4 linked regions of the Homo sapiens genome follow. Changing the gene in region 1 together with any one later gene gives a genetic interaction. Each region holds a gene or a part of one and is shown in the gene's direction. Other genes may lie near its edges.

Region 1 (5,365 bases):
TCACCTCACTTAAAGAGCTGAGGAGGAAGGAGACTGACAGAAGGATGACAACAGCAAGAGAAAGGATATAAAAATATATCATAGTATATACTAGAAAACTCATGATCTGAGTAATGGCTCTGAGTTGTCAGATTAGGTTATATTCAGATTGCTGTTTTTAAAAGACTCACTAGAATCCATGAGACACTGCTAAAATCAGAATGCTTTTGTTACTTCAAAATTAATCTTAAAAATTCAGTGAAGTAGAATGTAGTCCCAAGTGAAATGTTATTTGTGAAATTTTTCCTGAAATTTTTGTGAAATGTCAGTGACAAATTTGGGGGTGGGAGAATTTGTGTTTTCATTTATACTCTTAAACTGTGTGTGTGTTTTATTTTATTTTTATTATTATTTTTTTGAGACAGTCTTGCTCTGTCACCCAGGCTGGACTGCAGTGGTGCAATCTCGGCTCACTGCAACCTCTGCCTCCTGGGTTCAGGCGATTCTCCTGCCTCTGCCTCCTGAGTAGCTGGGGCTACAGGTGCCTGCCACCACACCTGGCTAATTTTTGTATTTTTAGTAGAGATGGGGTTTCACCATAATGGCCAGTCTGGTCTTGAACTCCTGACCTTGTGGTCTGCCCACCTTGGCCTCCCGAAGTGTTGGGATTACAGGTGTGAGCCACCATGCCTGGCCTATTTTTTGAGACAGGATCTCACTCTGTTGCCCAGGCCTGAGTGCAGTGGTGCGATCATGGCTCACTGCAGTCTCTACCTTCCAGGCTCAGGTGATCCTCCTGCCTCAGCTTCCCAAGTAGCTGGGACTACAGGTGTGTGCCACCACGCCCAACTAATTTTTATGTGTTTTTGTAGAGATGAGGTTTTACAATGTTGCCTAGGCGGGTCTCGAACTCCTGGACTCAAGTGATCTGCCACCTTCGGCCTCCCAAAGGGTTGTGATTATAGGCGTAAGCCACTGTACCCAGTCATGTATTCTTAAACTTTAAACTTGGGAGAGACTTGAGTTTTATACCTGTGTTAATATGAAATGAGAAAACCTTACTGGTTATTGGAACAACCAGAATTAACATGAAATGAGTTTTCTAAAAACCATATTTTAAAAAGTAGGTTACATATTCACATATTTCAAAGTTGTGCAGGTACAAAGGGGCATAATAATGAAAGGTCTCCCTCCCACGCCATTGCTTTTCTTGAATGCTGCCAATGTTCTGGAGATTAATATATGGGCACTTACAAATTTATATATAGAAAAGAAATAACGGGTCAAATGAATGAGAAAGTAGAAGATAACACATTTTTATTTTTTCCCTTTTACTTCAGGCACAACAACTAATTCTTTAGATCTGAGAGGAATTTGTTTTTAAGGCTCTAGATGTGAAAAAAGGAATGTTTAATAGTTTATCTTAGGTTTTATTTGAATTGGTCCAATAAGTAGTTTTTAAAAGCAAGTAAACTCTTTTTGTCTTTTAACTTCAAGTTTAAACCTTGATTACAAAGAGTGATCCTAGCTCTGCTGGGAGAAGTATTATAGATACGATCTCGTTTAAATTCGTGGTTACCATCACATCATTTCATTATTTGTTTTTATCTGGGATCAAACTGGAATGTGAATTCCACAGGCTCAGGACCCTCTCCTATTTGTTTTTAATTTCCTGTTGCCTAGCATAGGTCTTGGCCTGGCAGATCCAGAAAATGGCTTATTGAGTTAATGAAATAACTCAGTAATCTAGACATTCTTGGATCACTATGTTGGGCTTGAATTGTTTTTCCTGATAACATTTCTTTTGGCAGGAGGGTCTCTTGCTATCTGCAGTAGCATCCAAAAAAACCCAATTTTCAGGATTTTGTCTTGCAGTGTGTTACTGTTGTGTGCATCACAGATAATTGTTGTCAAGACATTAATGAATATCTGATTTGTTACTCACATGTTATGTGAGTACTAATGGCTTGTACTAATGACTTTTGCCCATTAATAAAGGATAGCATCTGTTATCATCTGAGGTACATTCTGTTGAGAGTGTTTCAAGTGTTACTCTCTTTTTTTCCCCTTTGGAATTGGTGTTTTCCTCTTAACTTACATTGTTAATGGAAGAAGAGATTGGAAGTGACTGAGATAGACTATCATTGGAACATGAGAGTGCCAGCTTTACATGCCGAAGGATCTCATTTTGCAAACTCGTAATTTCTTTCAGGAGGAGGCAAAACAGATTCAGAATCTGCAGAAAGCAGGCACTCGTACAGACTCAAGGGAGGATGAGATTTCTCCTCCTCCACCCAACCCAGTGGTTAAAGGTAGGAGGCGACGAGGTGCTATCAGCGCTGAGGTCTACACGGAGGAAGATGCGGCATCCTATGTTAGAAAGGTAGTTTTGATATTTGAATATCGGGGGGATGCTTTTGGGACCCACTTGGTGGTCATCTAGTCTCCTTTGATGAATGAATCATAAAATACAAAACAGGGTGGAACTTCATCCATCCTGTACAATTCTTGGGTACTGGAAAACAGGTTTCTGTAATAGCATGCTGTCAGAGGAAATAACTAATAGTGATTATGAACTAGTGAATAATTGCATTTTGGGGTTTGTTATTTCCTTGCAGTTGTTTTGCAGTAGAAGGAGGTGGGCGGTATTGCTTTTTCTCTTGAATCGTGATGTCCTTTTTTTGCTATCCTATTAAATGTTGTGGCTTTTAACCTTTTATTCTACGAGCCTCATTTGTCCTGTGTTCTCCTCTTCCTCAGAGCCAGGCTATTTTGAGTTATGCTGTTAGCCTTAAAGGGGAACAGAATTGTCCTGGCACTTGAGGCTTGTGAAGCTAACAGATCACAGATTTTTAAAATGACTAATTATTATAAAATACTTAGTTTTGCCTCAGAATAATGACCTTGGTCCAGGTGTTTTGATTTGTTTCTTTAGTTGTTAACTGGGAACCAAGTACCAGACTTTATATTTAGGCCTGGCTGTAGGCAAGGGGATTAATTAGTCAATACTTGTTGAGTAGTTTATGGATCAAAGATAGTACAAGTGTGTTGTAGTGAAACACTACAAAGCAGTCTTGTTTAAATACCATAATGTGGCTTGACATTTAATTGAAGCGCAGGTTGCAAACGTGAAATGTTTTTGGTTTATGGAATTGTCATTTGACCTTCAGTTCTTTTCTAGGTTATACCAAAAGATTACAAGACAATGGCCGCTTTAGCCAAAGCCATTGAAAAGAATGTGCTGTTTTCACATCTTGATGATAATGAGAGAAGGTAGGAACAGGCTCTTTCTTAACACTATTTTTCAAGTAAGGGTGTGATCCCAAATTGTTTTCAACACTTGTTGCAAGTTTTAGAGCTCTTAGTAATTGTTCACCAGATGACAGTCTGGGGTCTTTAATTCTAAGCTTAATGTTTGAAATTCACGGAAGAGACATGTGAAATGTAACACGAGGCCTTCTCTCTTTTGCAGTGATATTTTTGATGCCATGTTTTCGGTCTCCTTTATCGCAGGAGAGACTGTGATTCAGCAAGGTAAGGGCCTCTGGAGCATGCAATATTGTTACGGGAGAGGAGGCGAGACTAGAGGATTTTTTTGGTTTTGTTTTATTGAAGTTTGTTTTCCTCTTTGATCCTACCACTTTTTTTTTTCTGTTATACTATTGGATTTTTCTATTTCTTTTAAATTAAGATTTTCTGAGATGGACAGAACACTTTGTATTGGGAACTAATATTTTTGATACAGTTTTGTTTATAATTTAAAGGAAATGCCTACATTGTCTTACCTTGAATGTCATATAGAATTGCAGAATCATATATATCTCTCATGTTCTTTATATTGTTAATCACTTTTAAAGTAAGAAATAAATGAAACACCTACATTCTTCATTGTATAGCCCTGTCTATTAAAAAGGTTCTAGGACTTCTATAGATTCTTACTTTGCCTATATAGACTAACATGGATCTAACTTTTTGACTATCTTCCTCTTTTTATTTTCTTATTTATTCTTGACATTTTATGAGTGGGTATATATTTTCATTTTGTGGCAGCCTGATAATTTGTTATTAACTATTTGAGTTGTTTCTAATGTCCTTGTTATAAATGCCATAGCAGTTAATAACTACACATATGTAGCTTTTAAAAATTTTTTTCAGAGGTATTCTTCACCATGAGATGACTAAAAAAATTTTGATTAATTCTATGACTTTTAAAATATGTTGCTTGATTTTCTTTCCCCTGAAAGATTGTGTTAGTTTGTAACACACTCTCACAGTACCACTGTAAAATAAGTTTATTGTTTTGTAATAATTTTGATAATTTCTTTCTTTAATTTGGAATATGCTTCTAACTTTTTTACCCTCTTTTAGGTGATGAAGGGGATAACTTCTATGTGATTGATCAAGGAGAGACGGATGTAAGATTTACCAATATCAAAAATATGTTGATCTTAAAAGCCAATGTATTGATCGCTTCCGAGCAATAAGAATAGTGATTTTGAAGGGTCATTACATCCCTTGTATGTCAGATTTTATTAATACCTTTTGCCAAGTATTTTTATGACACAGAGAAACTCTTTAAAGGTAATTTTCTGTTCAGAACTTTGCTGGAGTGGTGGTGAAGAAGTGTGTGTAGCTGGGTGCAGTGGCCGATGCCTATAATCCCAGCACTTTGGGAGATGGAGGCAAGAGGGTTGCTTGAGCCCAGGAGTTCAAGACCAGCCTGGGCAACAAAGTGAAACCTCATCTCTTAAAAAAAAAAAAAAAAAAAGATTCTAGACCCAGCCATTAGCTAGCAAAATTAATATACCTTTCTTATTCACAAATGAAATGGGGACAATAATAGCATTGATCTTTTAGGATTATTAGAAGATTCAGTGACCTAATGCAAGTAAAATGTTTAGCATAGTGCTCAGCACGGTTCTCTAAGTATCTGTGACTGGTATTAGTGCTTAGCTGACCTTTTTCCCTTACATCCTTACAGAGTGCTTTTTTCTTATCAGATAATTAAATCAGGTAAATTATAGACACTCTTAACTCATTTAACTCGTCAGAAATCACCTATTCTTCTCTGTTGTGTACTGCAAACATAATATATTCTGTTTTTTAAAACAAAGTTCAGGATTGTGACCTTTTAAAAAGGTTTGAGGGTTTTTAACATTTAAGTGTTTGTATCTAGAAAATAAACTTTTTTGATGTCACTTGCACTTTAGGTCTATGTTAACAATGAATGGGCAACCAGTGTTGGGGAAGGAGGGAGCTTTGGAGAACTTGCTTTGATTTATGGAACACCGAGAGCAGCCACTGTCAAAGCAAAGACAAATGTGAAATTGTGGGGCATCGACCGAGACAGCTATAGAAGAATCCTCATGGTAAGAGACCATGGTGT
Region 2 (5,365 bases), on another chromosome or scaffold:
GAGGCCAGGAGTTCGAGATCAGCCTGGCCAACATGGTGAAACCCCATCTCTACTAAAAATACAAAAATTAGCCAGGCATGGTGATGCGCACCTGTAATCCCAGCTACTCGGGAGACTGAGGCAGGAGAATCATTTGAACCCGGGAGGCAGAGGTTGCAGTGAGCCGAGATCGCGCTGCACTCCAGCCTGGGTGACAGAGTGAGACTCCGTCTCAAAAAAAAAAAAGAAAAAACAGGGTCTCACTCTTGCCCAGGCTGGAAAGCAGTGGCACAATCACAGCCTACTGCAGCTGCAACCTCCTGGGCTAAAGTGATCTTCCCACCTCAGCTTCCCAAGTAGCCTCCACCATGGCTGGCTAATTTTTTTATTTTTATTTATTTATTTATTTTGAGGTGGAGTTTCGCTCTTGTTGCCCAGGCTGGAGTGCAATGGCACGATCTTGGCTCACTGCAACCTCCGCCTCCCGGGTTCAAGCAGTTCTCCTGCCTCAACCTCCCAAGTAGCTGGGATTACAGGCATGCGCCACCACACCCAGCTACTTTTGTATTTTTCATAGAGATGAGGTTTCTCCATGTTGGTCAGGCTGGTCTCAAACTCCCGACCTCAGGTGATACGCCGGCCTCGGCCTCCCAAAGTGCTGGGATTACAGGCATGAGCCACTGCACCCGGCCAATTTTTTTATTTTTTCTAGAGACTAGGTCTCCCTCTGTTGCCCAGGCTGGTCTTGAACTCCTGAGCTCAAGGGATTCTCCCACCTCAGTCTCTCAAAGTGTTGAGCTTACAGGCATGAGCCACCGCGCCCAGCCTGGGAGCCCTTCCATAAGTGATTTCAGACCTTCTCTCCAGGCAGGTGTTCCAGTGGGATAATTTAGGAATCAGAGAAACTGAGGGGTTGAGGAGGATACTTATTATTTATTATTTAGGTGCACTGGCCCAGTCAGATTAACATCGAAAAAGACTGAGCACCGAACAAAGAGTCAAGTTACATTTTAAGTATTTCGTGGGGTAGGGGGAGATCTGTGCAGGGGGAAGCATATTATAGCAGCGAGAAACAAAGACAGTTATTCAATTGAGACATGCATTACATTATTTCTTACTTTTCAAGGAAAAACATGTTTTAGGACTTGAGTTTATCCTGTCTAGTGACCTTGCAGCTGCACAGTTAGAGAAACAGGGTCTTCACGATGCCTGGGAAAGGGAGTTAGATAAGGCTCACTAGCCACAAACAGAAAAACAGGCAGTTAATTTTTAAAGGACTCAATCTCGGGCCGGGCGCAGTGGCTCACGCCTGTAATCCCAGCACTTTGGGAGGCCGAGATGGGCGGATCACGAGGTCAGGAGATCGAGACCATCCTGGCTAACACGGTGAAACCCCGTCTCTACTAAAAATACAAAAAAAATTAGCCGGGCATGGTGGCGCGCGCCTGTAGTCCCAGCTACACACGGGAGGCTGAGGCAGGAGAATGGCGTGAACCCGGGAGGCGGAGCTTGCAGTGAGTCGAGATCGCGCCACTGCACTCCAGCCTGGGCGACAGAGCGAAACTCCGTCTCAAAAAAAAAAAAAATAAAAAAAAATAAAGGACTCAATCTCTTTCTCTTCCTCAGGGGGAATTGGGTTTTTTACATACAACTGAGTTTTTGCTTACACATTCTTTAATTTCTTTTAATTCCTGTTTCAGTGTGAATAGCTTTCTCCCTACTTCCCAGACAGGACAGCTGAGGCCAAGAATTCAGGGGCTTCCCAGCAGTCACACAGCAAGTGTGTGTGAGCTGCAGGGTCCTTTCTCCTTTTCCTCCTCCCTGTCCTCTCGTCTGTGTGACTTAGGCTCTATGTTTGAATCTCAGCTTCTTTGCCCAGTGTCTCTGCCTTTCCTTCTCCCAGGGCCCCAAGCTCAGTTGCTGTGCCCCAGTCTCAGTCTTACTGGGTTTCTGTTCCCCCTTCTCTCCGTGTCATTCCTTGGCACATACTATCTGGTGCTGTTGCTACTGTGGGTTGGATGCTAGGTACATGATTTGGCAATAAGCAAACTTCTTCCTACATTTGTCTCTCTTTTTTTTTTTTTTTTTTTTTTTTTTGAGACAGAGTCTTGGTCTGTTGCCCAGGCTGGAGTGCAGTGGCATCATCTCGGCTCACTGTAACCTCCGCCTCTTGGGTTCAAGCGATCTCCTGCCTCAGCCTCCTGAGTAGCTGGGATTACAGGTGCGTGCTACCACACCTGGCTAATTTTTGTATTTTTAGTAGAGATGGGGGTTTTGGACCAGTGAGGTGGCTCACGCCTGTAATCCCAGCACTTTGGGAGGCTGAGGCGGATGGATCACGAGGTCAGGAGATCCAGACTATCCTGGCTAACACGGTGAAACCCTGTCTCTACTAAAAATGTAAAAAATTAGCCGGACGTGGTGGCACGTGCCTCTAGTCCCAGCTACTCAGGAGGCTGAGGCAGGAGAATCGCTTGAACCAGGCAGGCGGTTCAGTGAGCCTAGATCGTGCCGCTGCACTCCAGCCTGGGTGACAGAGCCAGACTCCATCTCAAAAAAAAAAAAAAAAAAAGAGAGAGAGACGGGGGTTTCTCCATGTTGGTCAGGCTGGTCTCGGACTCCTGACCTGGCGATCCACCCGCCTCGGCCTCCCAGAGTGCTGGGATTACAGGCGTAAGCCACCACGCCTGGCCTACAGCCTACATTTGTCACTTTCTAGTGAGCTCTGTCCTTGTCTCCTAATGCATATCTCTTTCTCTCTATGCAATTCTGTTTCTAAGTCTCCTAATATATACTTGCCTTTCTTTCAATTTCACCATGTCTTTGCCTCGGTGCATCTGTCAACATCTTCACTTTCTGTCCCAGTTCCTCCCAGCCCCTGGGCTTCCAATATTCTCTCCCTCCCTCACCTTTGACCTAGAGATACTGTCCCCATCTCTCTGTCTCTGTCTTGCCATGTGACTGGTTCATTCACTGGGCAGATGTTTATCTCATGCCGCTTCCATTCTGGTTTGAGCCTGAGATAAATAAGTCTGAATTAATGAGCCTCTCCTTCGCGGCTTCCATTCCAGAAGTGTCTGTCTCCATCTGTCTCCGTGTCTGTCATTTTCAGGGTTTTCTTGTATCCTTACCTTGCACATTCTCAATCCCACTGTTTTGGTCTCTTGTTTATATCTCTGCTTTTCTCTGGGTCTCTCTGACTCTGTAACTGTCCGAAAAAAAAGTATCCTTCACTTTCCCCACTCTCCCTCTCCTCCCAGCTCTCTTATTGCCTCATCCAACCTCTGTGGGTCTCTGCCTTGCTCTGTGTCTGGATCGGATCTCTGGGCCTTTGTTACGCGTGTTAGAGTCTCTGTCTTTGCAGCTAAAGACCTCCTCCCTCACGCCCCTTTTCTTTTGTGAATTCAATGGATGAGACAGGCCCACTCTCCCTTAACAAAGATGGCGACAACGGCGCTGTCTATGGGGCCGCGACGTCGTCTCCGCTGCGCGTCGGCCCTCACCCACGATGGCGGCCAGTCTCCCGAAGCGCGAGGCCCCGCCCAGCTCTCGGCCTCTCCCGCGGCCGGTCCCTGCACCAAGCTCGCGAGCTGACTGGCTCCACCCCCCGCGCCCTCGTATTGGTGCGGCCCAGGCCGGCTGCACGGCCATTGGCTGAGCGGATGCACACCCTCCCCCCACCCCTAGGTCTGATGGGGGCTGTTGGTGCTGACTTGCGGGACCGCCTGGAGGAGGACCCGGCGTGTGAGGAGGGTGCGGGGGTCGGGGCAGGGACCGGAGTCTAGGGGACTGAGGGACCAAGAGGAACAGAGACTCAGGCCCGGGACTGGGGCACCGGGGTGGGAGATGGAAATGGAAAACCTGGGCCAGGACTGAACCCAGCCAGGCCTGGGACTGGGTTCTGGAAATAAGAGTGCGGATGGCGGTTTGGGGGCCCAGGGCCAGACACGCAGGCCTATGGATTGGGGACCAATGGATGGAGACCCAGGTCCAGGTCTCGGGGACCCAGGGACAGAGACCCAGGCCCAAGACTGGAGGACATCTAGGGCTCTGTGCTTGAACCTGATTTGAGGTTCCCATAATGGGGCCAGGGCAGGTTTGGGGGTGAAGCAGACGTCCTGGACCCGAGAGAGCCGCTGGGGATAGGGGGGCAGATGTAGTTCCTAAGGGTGAGTCCACAGGCGGTGGGGGGTGGGGGGCTGTCCTGGCGCTCTGGGCCTGGGGAATGTGAGGGGCAGGACTGGCAGGTGGCTGGGCGGGGCAGTGGGGAACAAAGGTGAGCGAAAGGAGGAGGCAGAATCCGGGCAGAGGGCAGGGAGAGGGCCTGTGGGGAAGGGACCTCAGTCCTGCTCCCACCCGCTCCCTGGAGAGCAGGCGGCCAGACACCCAGGTCAGTGCTCAGGGACCAGCTCTTGGCCCCTGCCCCTTGCAGGCGCTCGCATGTGGCTCCTCTCGGACCCCGTAGTCCCTGTCATATCCCTTCTCTCCAGCTGTCTCCATGCCTGCCTCGTACCCCTCCTATTTGCTCTCCCTTCCACTCTGTCTTGCCTTTCTCGTTGGGGTGAAAAAGTCTTACTCTCTTAAGTATCTTTCATCGCCTGAGTTTCACCTCATTGACCCTGTTTGTCTCCTCTCAGTGTTTCTCTGGCTCTCAGACCCTATCTCTATTGCGTTTGTGATTGTTTTGCTGTTTTACCCACTGCACCGTATGGGGGGTGGGGGTGTCGGGGAGGTGTGTCTTTCAGTCTTTGCATGTCTGTTTCTGCATATCCAATCCCACTATCCATTCCCCTTCCTGTGCCTTCTTTTCCCCCAAAGCCCGTTATCATCACCCAACCACCTGTATATTTCAATCCTTTCTCTTGTTTATCTATTCCTATGAAGGCAAGGATTTGGGGCTATTTTGTCTCCTGCTGTGTTTGCTAGGCCTAGCACCGTGATTGGCACATAAAGGGTACTGAATACTTACTGGGGAATAAATGATTGGATGTTTGCATGCCCGGGTCTCCGGCCCCCTCTGGGATGCTGGCCTCTGTCCCGCATCCTCAAGGTCTGCCCACACCTGTCTGAGCCTGTCTGTCTCTGATGCTCCTGTCTCACCTGCCACTGCCCCTCATTGTCTCCTCCTGTCCACAGCCCCTGCCCCTCCCTGCCCCTGCCATGGGGTCCTGAATTCTCACCCCTTCTCTCCTCCCTTCCCACAGAGGCCAGACCAGGAGCTGACCGGGAGCTGGGGCCACGGGCCTAGGAGCACCCTGGTCAGGGCTAAGGCCATGGCCCCGCCCCCACCGCCACTGGCTGCCAGCACCCCGCTCCTCCATGGCGAGTTTGGCTCCTACCCAGCCCGAGGCCCACGCTTTGCCCTCACCCTTACATCGCAGGCCCT
Region 3 (5,365 bases), on another chromosome or scaffold:
TCTATTGTGAAGCTGGTAGAGACTTTAGAAAAACTGCCAACCTTTGATTTGGCCTCCCATCACCATGTGAAGTTTCATTATGCATTTGCACTGAATAGGTAAGAAGAAAAAGTTCCCTTCCAGAATGCGTTAACATATTATTGTGTAACCTGCAATTCTTTACAGAGAATGTGTTCACTGCAGCATTGCAAGAAGTCCCTATTAAAATGTAATATTAGCATATCTGCTTCAGCCCCATGAAATATAGGAAGCATGCATTCTCATTTTTTTCTGATTTATTTTTCAGTAAAAAAAAAGTCGCACACTGTTGGTATATTTAAATTCTTACAGGTTTTCTGCTCTGTCAAAGTTTGTATTTGCTATTCATATTTTTTAGAATTGTAAAAGTTACATGAATATGATGTTATCTTTAAGCAAATACACTCAACACCAGATGGTCATTCACACAAAAGTTTTCACTAGAGTAAGGATGGTTATGTCTAGGTGAACATAGTGTTAGATAGTTATTACCAAGGATAAAAAGGAATTTCTTGGACAGAAGATTTGAAGTAGTAATTGAGAATAGAAATGATACCTTTTTTATAATAGCTTTATTGAAACATATTTCACAGGCTGGGCGTGGTGGCTCACTCCTGCAATCCTAGCACTTTGAGAGGCCAAGGTGGTCGGATTGCCTGAGCTCAGGAGTTCGAGAGCAGCCTGGGCAACACGGTGAAACCCCGTCTCTACTAAAATACAAAAAAATTAGCCAGGTGTGGCAGTGTGCACCTGTAGTTCCGGCTACTCGGGAGGCTGAGGCAGGAGAATCGCTTGAACCTGGGAGGCAGAAGTTGCAGTGAGCCAAGATCATGCCACTGCCCTCCAGCCTGGGCAACAGAGCAAGACTCTGTCTCCAAACAAACAAACTAAATATATTTCATCAAAACAATAAATTTTAAAACATTTTCATCACTCCACAAGGAAACCCTGTACCCATTAGCAGCCCCCCTTCCATTTCCCTCCCAAATCCCCCAACTCTAGGCAACCACGAATCTACTTTCAGTCTTTACAGATTTGCCTATTCTGGACATTTCATATAAATGGAATCATACAGTATGTGGTCCCTTGTGACTGACCTCTTTCACTTAGCATAATATTTTCAAGGTCTAAGGAATGATAACTCTTATAGAATTTTTATCTGGTTTTGTGAACTGTCTACACATACTATTTTAAAGCATGCTACATAAAGCAACTTCCTTAGATAATCAGTTAGTCACACGTAGAAATCAAGCAGTTCTTGGGTTTGATTTGATTTTTGGTATCATCTGTGAATGAGTTTGCTAAGTTTTGGAGCAAAAGCCATTGAAACCTAAGGTCAGGGTTTTGTCCCTACTTGGCTTTATTTACTCTACCCTATTCAAAGACACAGACTACAACTCTAATCTCGTTTCACCAACTTGAACCTGCATATAGGCTGCAGGGAAATTGGAAGGATTGTGGATGAGTAAGTACAAATCCATCACCATTATTAACACAGAAACTCAAAAGAAATCCTTGTTAGACCTAGTAGACATACAATGGGATAAAACAAAAAATTAGGCTTAGGACAGAGGTTTACAGAGGACTCTCAAAATCTAATTGTTTCTGTCCTGGCAAATTTCTCTAATATGAATCAACATGTTAAATAGGGTTTTTAAAAAAGAATTGATCTATATTGCTTCTGTAATGTATATTGAAACAACAATGTTTTCTGCCTTAGGAGAAATCTCCCTGGTGACAGAGCAAAAGCTCTTGATATTATGATTCCCATGGTGCAAAGCGAAGGACAAGTTGCTTCAGATATGTATTGCCTAGTTGGTCGAATCTACAAAGATATGTTTTTGGACTCTAATTTCACGGACACTGAAAGCAGAGACCATGGAGCTTCTTGGTAAGTAAATAGTATATAAATGAGCTACTTACTTAGTAAATCCATGGCATAAAAAAGTATTTGCAAATGAGAGTGTTAAAGTATTATTATAATCCATAAGATTGTGTATTATGAACTAAACCTTAGATTTTATTTTATTTTATTTTATTTTTGAGATGGAGTCTTGTTCTGTTGCCCAGGCTGGAGTGCAGTCATGTGATCTTAGCTCACTGCAACCTCTGCCTCCCAGGTTCAAGCGATTCTCCTGCCTCAGCCTCTCCAGTAACTGGGATTACAGGTGCCCGCCACCACGCCCACTAATTTTTACATTTTTAGGAGAGACGGGTTTTGCCCTGTTGGCCAGGCTGGTCTTGAATTCCTGACCTCAGGTGATCCAACTGCCTCTGCCTCCTCAAGTGCTGGGATTACAGGCGTGAGCCACCGGGCCAATCTTAGAGTTTATAACTTTAGTAAATAATTTGATGAAATTCATTTAACATAGTATAGTAAATTGGGATAAATAGATGAAAAGATAATTTAAGAAATATAATTTTAAAAAGATATTTTAAATAAGTAATATAAATAATAAAATATAATTTTGTAGAAAAATTTATATAAAGACAGTTTAAAAGACCTGAATGAAAGGAAAAAATATACCGAGTTTGTAGATGAGAAGGCTTGATATTTTAAAGATTTTAATTCCCCCCAGCAGGGGTTTTCATGTGATTTGACAAACCAATTCCAAAATTTATTTGAAAGAATAAAGGACTGAGAATAGGCAAAGCAATTCTGGAAAAGCACAAGGTGGAAGGACTTGCTCCACCAGTTAACAAGACTCATTATAAAGCTGTAATGATTAAGATATTGCAGTATGGCTATAGGCATAGACAAACAAAGCACTGGAATACAAGAGACAGCCTGGAACAGACTAAGATATACATGAGTCTAGATTTATGGCAGAATCAGCTTCATGAGCTGTAAAGGAAAGGATGGAATCTGTAGTAATGATACTGGGAAAATTTCTTTATCTGCTTGGAAAAATAAAATAAAGTTCTATCCCCATTTTAAGCCATGCACAAAAAAATGAAATCTAAGTGAGTTAAATACCAAAATATGAAAAAATACTTTAGAAAAATATTTTTAGAATAAAGTGTACAAATTATGTATGACTATTGGATAAGCAAAGATTTCTTTCTTTTTTTTTTGAGACAAGGTCTTGCTCCGTCACTCAGGCTGTAGTGTAGTGGTGCAATCTCGGCCCACTGCCACCTCCACCTCCTGAGCTCAAGTGATCTTCCCACCTCAGCCTCCTGAGTAGCTGGGACCACAGGTGTGTGCCACCACGCCTGGCTAATTGTTTGTATTTTTGGTAGAGAGAGGGTTTCACCATGTTGCCCTGACTGGGGCAAAGATTTCTTAAACAAGGCTTAAAAACGCCATATACCATAAAAGATAAGACTGGGAAAATGGTCTACATGAAAATTGGCTTCTGCTCATCAAAGTAGTAGCTTTTGGAAACAGCAGAGTAGATTCTATTGTGCTTATCTTCCTGTTGATAACAATTATAAATGTTGGAAAAAAGTTGGAAAGCACTGAAGAGTGATTAAAAGTAGCTAGAAACTGGAAAGGTTTTCATCCTTGGATGAAGGGCACCGCATAGGATAAACTCCACATTTAAATGGCTTTTCCCTCAAGACATTCCCTGGTCTGCAGGGAGCAGGACAGATAGAACTCTAGCAGGAAATCACAGTCTTATTGGCCTGAGAGTGAGTTTGAGGCTGCCGGAGGACCTGGACATTGAGTGGGATAAGCCTTTGTGTGAACAAGGTGAACCACCAATAATTTATTTACCTTTTATTAAAAAACTACATACTCTTAAGAGGAGGAGAACAAATCCAAACTCTCTACAGCTTATCATCCAAAATGTCTAATACACCATAAAAATTACTAAGCAACCTGGGTGTGGTGGCATGTTCCCATTGTTCCAGCTACTCAGGAGGCTGAGGTGCGAAGATGGCTTGAGCCTAGGAGTTCAAGACCTGCCTGGACAATATAAAAATACCTTGTCTTATTAAAAAAAAGAAAAAAAGAAAAAAAAGAAAGAAAAACTCTCAACTACTAAAGTGGTGAAGAAATAGGAAAGTGTGATTCATAATTAAGAAAAAAATTATTCATAGAAATAAACCCATAGATAAAACAGAGTTTAGAATTACCAGACAAGGACATAAAAATAACAATGATAATTATATCAAAGAATCTACTTGAAAAGATGAACATAATGGGTGAAAATATGAGGAATTATAGGAGATATTTGGAAACTGGAAATAACCAAATGGGAGTTCTAGAACTGAAAAGTACAATATCTGAAGTTGAAATGTCATCAAATCAGATTAACAGCAGATAGGACACAATACGATAAAAGAGCAATAAACTTCAAAACAGATTATTAGAAATCATTGAAATTGAAGCAGAGGAAAGAAAGAGATGAAGTCATTAATAATTCCAATGACCTGTGGCATTTAGTGGTCTAAATACTTTTTTTTTTTTTTTTGAGACGAATCTTGCTCTGTTGCCCAGGCTGGAGTTCAGTGGTGCAATCTCACCTCACTGCAACCTCTGCCTCCGGGGTTCAAGCGATTCTCGTGCCTCAACCTCCCAAGTAGCTGGGATTACAGGCATGCCCCACCATGCCCAGCTACTTTTTGTATTTTTAGTTGAGTCCGGGTTTCCCCATGTTGTCCAGGCTGGTGTCAAACTCCTGACCTCAAGTGATCCACCTGCCTCGGCCTCCTGAAGTGCTGGGATTACAGGTGTGAGCCACCGTGCCCAGCCTTGAGTGGTCCAGATACTTTTAATTAGAGTCCCAGGAGAGGAGAGATATACTGTTGCAGGGATAATAGTTGAAGAATTAGTGGTCAAATATTATCCAAATCTGTTCAAACAAACAAACAAATAAAAAACAGCTCACAGATCTAGGAAGCTCAGCAAAACCCAAGGAGCATAAATATCAAAGAAAATTATCTCTTGGCACATCATAGTAAAATTGGTGAAAAACAGAAATACAAGAAAAGGTCATAAATGCAGCCTAAGAAAGAAGATACATCAGGGGAAAGAGTGAGTGCTGAAGGAAGCCAAAAGATAATGGAATAACATTAAAGTGCTGAAAGAAAAAAACCCAATCAAGCAAGAACTCTATATCCACTGATAATGTCTTTAAAATATGGGGGTGAAGTAAAGACAATTCTAGATACATCAAAACTGAGATAATTTGTTGCCAGCAGAACTTCACTACAAGAAATGTTAAAGTCTTTAGGCTGAAGGGAAATAAAACCAAATGGATCTATAGGAAAAAGCATATAGCACTGGAAATGATAAATATATGAATAAATATAAAAGATACCATCAACAAAGAAATCACAGGGAACAATGCATGTAACCAATATAGGATATGTATTCAGTATATATAAATAACTCCTC
Region 4 (6,035 bases), on another chromosome or scaffold:
AAACCTTCAGAGCAGGAAAGCTCTGGGCTCAACCCCTTTGTGAGTGGTGCAAAAGGGACAAAGCCCGCCCCTTTTAAGGAGACCCGCGGAGGCTAGACCCGCCCTTTCCTCTTTATAATTTGCCCATCAGAAATAGGGTCTTCTTCCCAGGTTGGACCCCGGGGAGTTTGGGCTTTTCCTACAATCACTGACCCTCACTGTGACTAAAGGAGCAGAATTAGGTAACAGTCCTCCCACTACCAATCCTCTTCCCGAGGGCATGTAAACTAATGCAGGGTAAAGGTGTGGCTAGAGGGGGGACCTTGATAAAAGATCCCATGTGACTCAAGAGTAAGGAAAGATGAGAAGTTAGCAGTTGCGTAAAGAAGGACTGGGGCAGATGAGGATTCAGGAAGCTTGAGGTTTAGGAAGGAAGATATTGAGAGGGAAAGGTGGAAATGAAGGAGAGTGAAGTGATGGAATGATCCTAGTAAAGGGATAATGGGAGTGGAGGAAGAGAAGAGGGGGTGGAAAACTAGATACATGGCTACCAAATTAAGGAGGCACGCGCATTCCAGAGGAATCGGCATTCTTCCTCACTTTTTATTTTTCTAGAAAGCACCCCTGAAGCCAAATTTCCATTGGAAGAAAAGATGTACCCATATTGTATGTTGTGAGAAGGGGTTGTCTCAGCTTGGGCAAGTAAGGAGACTGATACGAAGGAAGTAGGAAAGAAAAGGTACAGAGGTAAAAGAGCATGGAAAAGGAAAGGGTCAGGGATAAGGCCAAAGAGATCTCTTCTCTTTAAAGGCCAGAGAAGGCAGGTGGAGGGGGGAGCTGGACTGCTGGGAGATAGTGAGGGACAAAGGGCAAAGGAAACCAGACCAGAGGACTGGAGAGTGAGATGGAGTGAGATGGAGTCCTGGAGAGAAAAAGAAGAGAGGTGAACTTAATGCTTGTCATATGGTAGGTAGATGCTTGATAAATGTTTAGAATTGAATGGGTACGGGAAAAGGGGTCCTTAAGAATAGTTGGGGGGAATAAGCAGCAGATAACCGGAGTTGAGAAAAAAAGAGACCAAGTAAAAGTGGCAGTTAAAAGAGAGCTGATGGAGAATAAAGGAAGGAATGTGCGGAAGGAGGAATACAGCACCAGGGGATCCAGAGCTGAAAGGGAGTTAGAGAAAAAAAAGATGCAGCTGGAGCCAGAGATGGGGGCAAAGACCGAGGGAGAGCCCTGGGGCGGGGCTCGCAAGAGGACACTGGTAGATGTGGGGAGGAGATGCCAGAGTTTCTGGGAGACGATTGGCAAAACAGGCTGCCCATCACCGCCCTCCACTTCCTGGCCGGCCCCGGAAACCAGCAGGCGTTGGGGAGGGGTGGCGGGGGAATAGCGGCGGCAGCAGCCCCAGCCCTCAGAGAGACAGCAGAAAGGGAGGGAGGGAGGGTGCTGGGGGGACAGCCCCCCACCATTCCTACCGCTATGGGCCCAACCTCCCACTCCCACCTCCCCTCCATCGGCCGGGGCTAGGACACCCCCAAATCCCGTCGCCCCCTTGGCACCGACACCCCGACAGAGACAGAGACACAGCCATCCGCCACCACCGCTGCCGCAGCCTGGCTGGGGAGGGGGCCAGCCCCCCAGGCCCCCTACCCCTCTGAGGTGTGGGCGGGAAAGGGATGGGAGGAGGAGGGAAGAGGGTGCTGAAAGCGACTAGGATGAGGGGAAGGGGAGAGATTGGGTCTGGGAGGGCCGACTGGGGGAGAGGGTTGCTGGGGAAAGGAGAGGGGCCGACTGGGAAGAGGGTTGCTGGGGATAGGAGAGGGGACCTGAGAGGGAGGAAGGATGGAAGAGACCTGGGAGGGAGGAGAAATGGAAACCCTTGTGAATTTGGGACTGGGAGCGTGCACAGGGAATCCTGGAGAGGGAATTCCCTACACCTTCCCCAATTCCTTTTCTTGCCCTTTGACCCCACATGACTCTTGAAGGGTCATGAGGGGAGAAGGCCAGCAGAATTTGCCTCTTAGGAATACCCTTAGGTGCCTCTGTTTCCATCTAGGCACAGGACCTCTTGTTTCTCAGTGGCCTTCCACACTGCTAGACCCTTACTGACACACAAATGCCTTATGGGAGCCATGTTTTCTACATTGAGTCTGTGTGCCTTTGACATGTTTAATGGCTTGTGTGCAACTAGGTTGTCCCAATGCTATCCATAGGCTGTGTAGAAATGGTGTGTTATTTTCTATCAGAATTGCCCATTCTTCATTCTTGTGTCCATGTCTCACATCCAGTTTTGACATGTTTTAAGTACCGCATGTGTGTGAGTTTTCATATATTGCACCTGTTCTATAATTTCATGTTACTTGCACATTTTATGTTTTGGCATGTTTATTTCAGCATGTGAAGGTTATATACCTTATTTTGCTTTGGCTGACATGTCCATGGTCCTACCATTTGCAGTAGTCTTCATGTGTGGGATCCCATGGCTTGGCTGAATACCCCACACTCTGATGTCTGACTGAATTGGCCTGTTTGCTGTGTTTTCCCAGTCACAGTTCACAGAACACATGTGTATGCGCCTTTGCATGATACACTGATGTAACAGGACCATAGAATGTGTGTTATAAATTTGTCATCAGTATATTTTGTGAGCCGTATGCTCATTAAATTTGGCCCTCCATTGCATTTCTAAATCCTTGGACTTTTGTTCTCCAAAGAGGGTCACTTAATATCAAGTGTTAAGAGAAGAAGGTAACTGGGTCTCCAGGTCTGCAAAGAACCATCCCTGCATGCCTTACCTTGGTGACCTCCCTGGCCCATACCTCTCTACACAAACATTATCTTTCCAGTGGCTGTGTACAGTCTGTGTCCATGAGCTCAATGCATGTCACAGGGTCAATCCTGCTGTGAACCCCATTGTTGGTATTTATTTATGGACATTATCCTCCATTCTTTGCACTGTTGGCACACATTTGATGAGAGCAGCATCTTTCCCTGTGGCATCTTGATCCCATTCGGTACATTTCTCTTGTGAGATGACCTCTTCCTGATTATTGTTACTCTGCCTTCATTATGGCTATGTATTGCATGTATCTATTCAGAGTCGGTTACCATTAGGCTTGGTGTGTTCGTTACTTTCTCAGTGACTTCTTTTAGTAGTCACTTCTACTCAAGAGGATAACTATCTAATTTGTGATCAGAACCGCCATCTCTGTCATTAACTGTGGCTCTATGGGTGGGTATACAGCCTTAGAATCTGTTCAGCAAGTGTTTATTGAGCACCTACTCCATCTCCTATTGTCCTGGCACTGGAGATAAGACAGAGTCCCTGTCCTTAAGCTGCTTACAGCCTAAGGAGGGAAACAAAAACGCCAGTCAACACATAGTGTGTTGTCAAGATCAGTGGTTCTTAAATTCAGGCGCACATCAGACTCACCAGAGGGCTTGTTGAAATACAGATTGCTAGCCAGCCACGATGGCTCACACCTGTAATCCCAACAGTTTGGAAGGCTGAGGCAGGAGGATCGCGTGAGTCCAGGAGTTCAAAACCAGCCTGAGTGACAGAGTGAGAAAAAGAAAAACAGATTGCTGGACCTAATGCCCAGAATTTCTGATTCAGTAGATCTGGGGTGAAGTCTAATAATTTGCATTTCTATACTTCGAGACCCGCTGATCAAGATAAAAGTGTAAGGAAAGCACAGGCCTGGAGGGGTTCAGGCAGCCCTCCAAAAGGTGACACTGAGCTGTGTGAGGCAGGAGAAGAGACAGGCATTCCAGCCAAAGGGAACAGCATGTTCAAGGTGGGGAAGCATGAAAGATCATGGTGTCTGAGGAACTGAAGTGAATCAGTTTGACTGGAACAAAGAGTTTTGTGAGGATGTGGTCGAAGATGTAAGCAGAAGTCAACTTATCAAGAAGAGCCTTTAGGCAAGACAGGGAAATGCTCTGTGTTTCAGAAAAATCTGTGCTAACAGAAAAATCTCTGTGGTTGCTACGTGGAAGATGGATTGGAGGGAGTTGGGAGCCTACTCCACATAGTTCAGGGGAGAAATGATGCTGTTCTGAACTTGTAGGGGCAGTGGGATGGAGCAGCTCAGAAAGCCTACGGTATTCCAACTGGCAGGGTCTCCTGTTTCCTCTATTGCCTGTTACCTTCTCGCTTGGCAATAGGCTTACCTTTGAGCATAGCCCTTCCCATCATGGGAAGACAGTGCCTGTGGCCTCAGTAGGAATGACAGGTATTTGCCTGAACACCCTTTTTGTGAATTGTTACCCTGCCCCCAACACTGGGGCAGAGTGGAGGAAGGAGGAAGAACCTAGAACACAGGTTCTGTGTTCCTGCCTCTCTTCCTCTTGAGCCCTTTCCTCTCCCAGGGCAAGTGCTGTTAGGTCACCTTTACTCCATTCCCTCCTTTTTTCACTTGGTGAGGCCTCACACACTGTACCTGCCCACGCAAAGTGTCACTAGAAGGAAGGGAAAGGGTAGTAGGATTCGTTTGCCTGTCTGGAGGTAGGATTGGTCTTTGTAGCTATTCCAGGTATGTCCATAAGTTTACCTAGGAATAGGGGAGCTGCCTGGGTGGAGAGGGATTTTTCTAGTTATGCATTTACATTCTTTTATCTGTCACTGGGTGTAATTATAAATTTGTGTCTATGTGTGAACATGTTAGTCTTTGTATGACTGTGTGTCTGTTGGCATTAGTGACACGAACTTTTAATCTTGCCATTTGGCCCTTGGGTATATGGCTGTGAGTGTTCTGTCACAATCACCATATATGCTGTGTGCTGTGTTCGTATATATATATGCAATACATACCAGTGTCAGCGTAATGGAGTGGTTAGGAACACAGGCGGCTTAGATTTAACCTAGAAACTGCTGTTTAGGAGCTGTATGACCTCAGGTAAGTTATTTAGCCTCCCTGGGCCTATTTCCTATAAAATGTAAATAGTAATAGTACTTTCTAGACTATCATATGCATCATTTTAAGAGTTTAACTTAATGTATAGACCAGTACTGTTCTACAGAAATATAATGCAAGCCACAATGTAATTTTTTTATGGTAGCCACATTTTTACAAGGCAAAAAGAGTGAAATTAATTTTAGTAATATATTTTCTTGAATCTGATAACATCCAAAAGATTATAATTTCTTTTTTTTTTTTTGGAAATGGAGTCTCACTCCATTGCCCAGGCTAGAGTGCAGTGGCGTGATCTTGGCTCACTGCAACCTCCGCCTCCCGGATTCAAGCGATTCTCCTGCCTCAGCCTCCCGAGTAGCTGGGATTAAAGGCATGCGCCAACAGGCCCGGCTAATTTTTGTATTTTTAGTAGAGACGGGGTTTCACCATGTTGGTCAGGCTGGTCCTGAACTCCTGACCTCGTGATCTGCCCACCTCGGCTTCCCAAAGTGCTGGGATTACAGGCGTGAGCCACTGCGCCCGGCCCAAGATTATAATTTCAAAATGTAGTCAGCATAAAAGATTAGTAATGGATATCTCACATTTTGTTTTTTATTCAGTCTTTGAAATCTGATGTGTATTTTACATTTCCAGCACATCTCAGTTCAGACTAGCTGCATTTCAAGTAGCCACATGTAGGTGGTGGCTACTTTCTCGGACAGCACAAGTATAGACCATTATAAGACCCTTACCAGCTACAAGTGTTAGCTATTATTCTTGTTGTCATTTATTATCAGGTATCTGTGAATTGTAGATGTCTGTGTCTTGTGTCTCTTGTCTGAATATATCCGGAGCCTTTGGGAAGAGTGGTGGGAGAGCAGTCCTGAGCTCTTTCTCCACCACCCTCATCCTAGAGAGCCTTCCTGGGAAGGTTTCAATGAGACCCCTGCCCCAGTTTGTGTCTCAGGCCCTTGTCCTCATAGCACCAGCCCCCAGCCCTGCCTTCTGTGCCTTGCCTACCCCACTCTCCTCCAGAAACCAGGCTGATTGTCCCTTGCCCCATCCCCTGCAGGTGGCCAGAATGGATTTGTGGCCAGGGGCATGGATGCTGCTGCTGCTGCTCTTCCTGCTGCTGCTCTTCCTGCTGCCCACCCTGTG

The links.
Region 2: changes in PRKAR1A (region 1) and SPHK2 together harm fitness less than expected from each alone (positive genetic interaction), as found in Homo sapiens cells (one large-scale study listed by BioGRID).
Region 3: changes in PRKAR1A (region 1) and MAP3K5 together harm fitness less than expected from each alone (positive genetic interaction), as found in Homo sapiens cells (one large-scale study listed by BioGRID).
Region 4: changes in PRKAR1A (region 1) and AGPAT1 together harm fitness less than expected from each alone (positive genetic interaction), as found in Homo sapiens cells (one large-scale study listed by BioGRID).

What each region holds. Positions count from the first base shown.
Region 1 is NC_000017.11:68,520,565-68,525,929, forward strand, and holds part of PRKAR1A (cAMP-dependent protein kinase type I-alpha regulatory subunit), read left to right. Parts: intron 1-2,191; coding exon 2,192-2,362; intron 2,363-3,160; coding exon 3,161-3,252; intron 3,253-3,451; coding exon 3,452-3,513; intron 3,514-4,347; coding exon 4,348-4,394; intron 4,395-5,189; coding exon 5,190-5,348; intron 5,349-5,365. UniProt on the Homo sapiens protein: Regulatory subunit of the cAMP-dependent protein kinases involved in cAMP signaling in cells.
Region 2 is NC_000019.10:48,620,708-48,626,072, forward strand, and holds part of SPHK2 (sphingosine kinase 2), read left to right. Parts: intron 1-4,321; exon of another isoform or gene 4,322-4,369; intron 4,370-5,183; coding exon 5,184-5,365. UniProt on the Homo sapiens protein: Catalyzes the phosphorylation of sphingosine to form sphingosine-1-phosphate (SPP), a lipid mediator with both intra- and extracellular functions. Also acts on D-erythro-dihydrosphingosine, D-erythro-sphingosine and L-threo-dihydrosphingosine.
Region 3 is NC_000006.12:136,690,684-136,696,048, reverse strand, and holds part of MAP3K5 (mitogen-activated protein kinase kinase kinase 5), read left to right. Parts: coding exon 1-98; intron 99-1,738; coding exon 1,739-1,909; intron 1,910-5,365. UniProt on the Homo sapiens protein: Serine/threonine kinase which acts as an essential component of the MAP kinase signal transduction pathway. Plays an important role in the cascades of cellular responses evoked by changes in the environment.
Region 4 is NC_000006.12:32,171,420-32,177,454, reverse strand, and holds the start of AGPAT1 (1-acyl-sn-glycerol-3-phosphate acyltransferase alpha isoform 1 precursor), read left to right. Parts: upstream 1-1,370; 5' UTR 1,371-1,641; intron 1,642-4,338; exon of another isoform or gene 4,339-4,517; intron 4,518-5,949; coding exon of another isoform or gene 5,950-5,958; coding exon 5,959-6,035. UniProt on the Homo sapiens protein: Converts 1-acyl-sn-glycerol-3-phosphate (lysophosphatidic acid or LPA) into 1,2-diacyl-sn-glycerol-3-phosphate (phosphatidic acid or PA) by incorporating an acyl moiety at the sn-2 position of the glycerol backbone.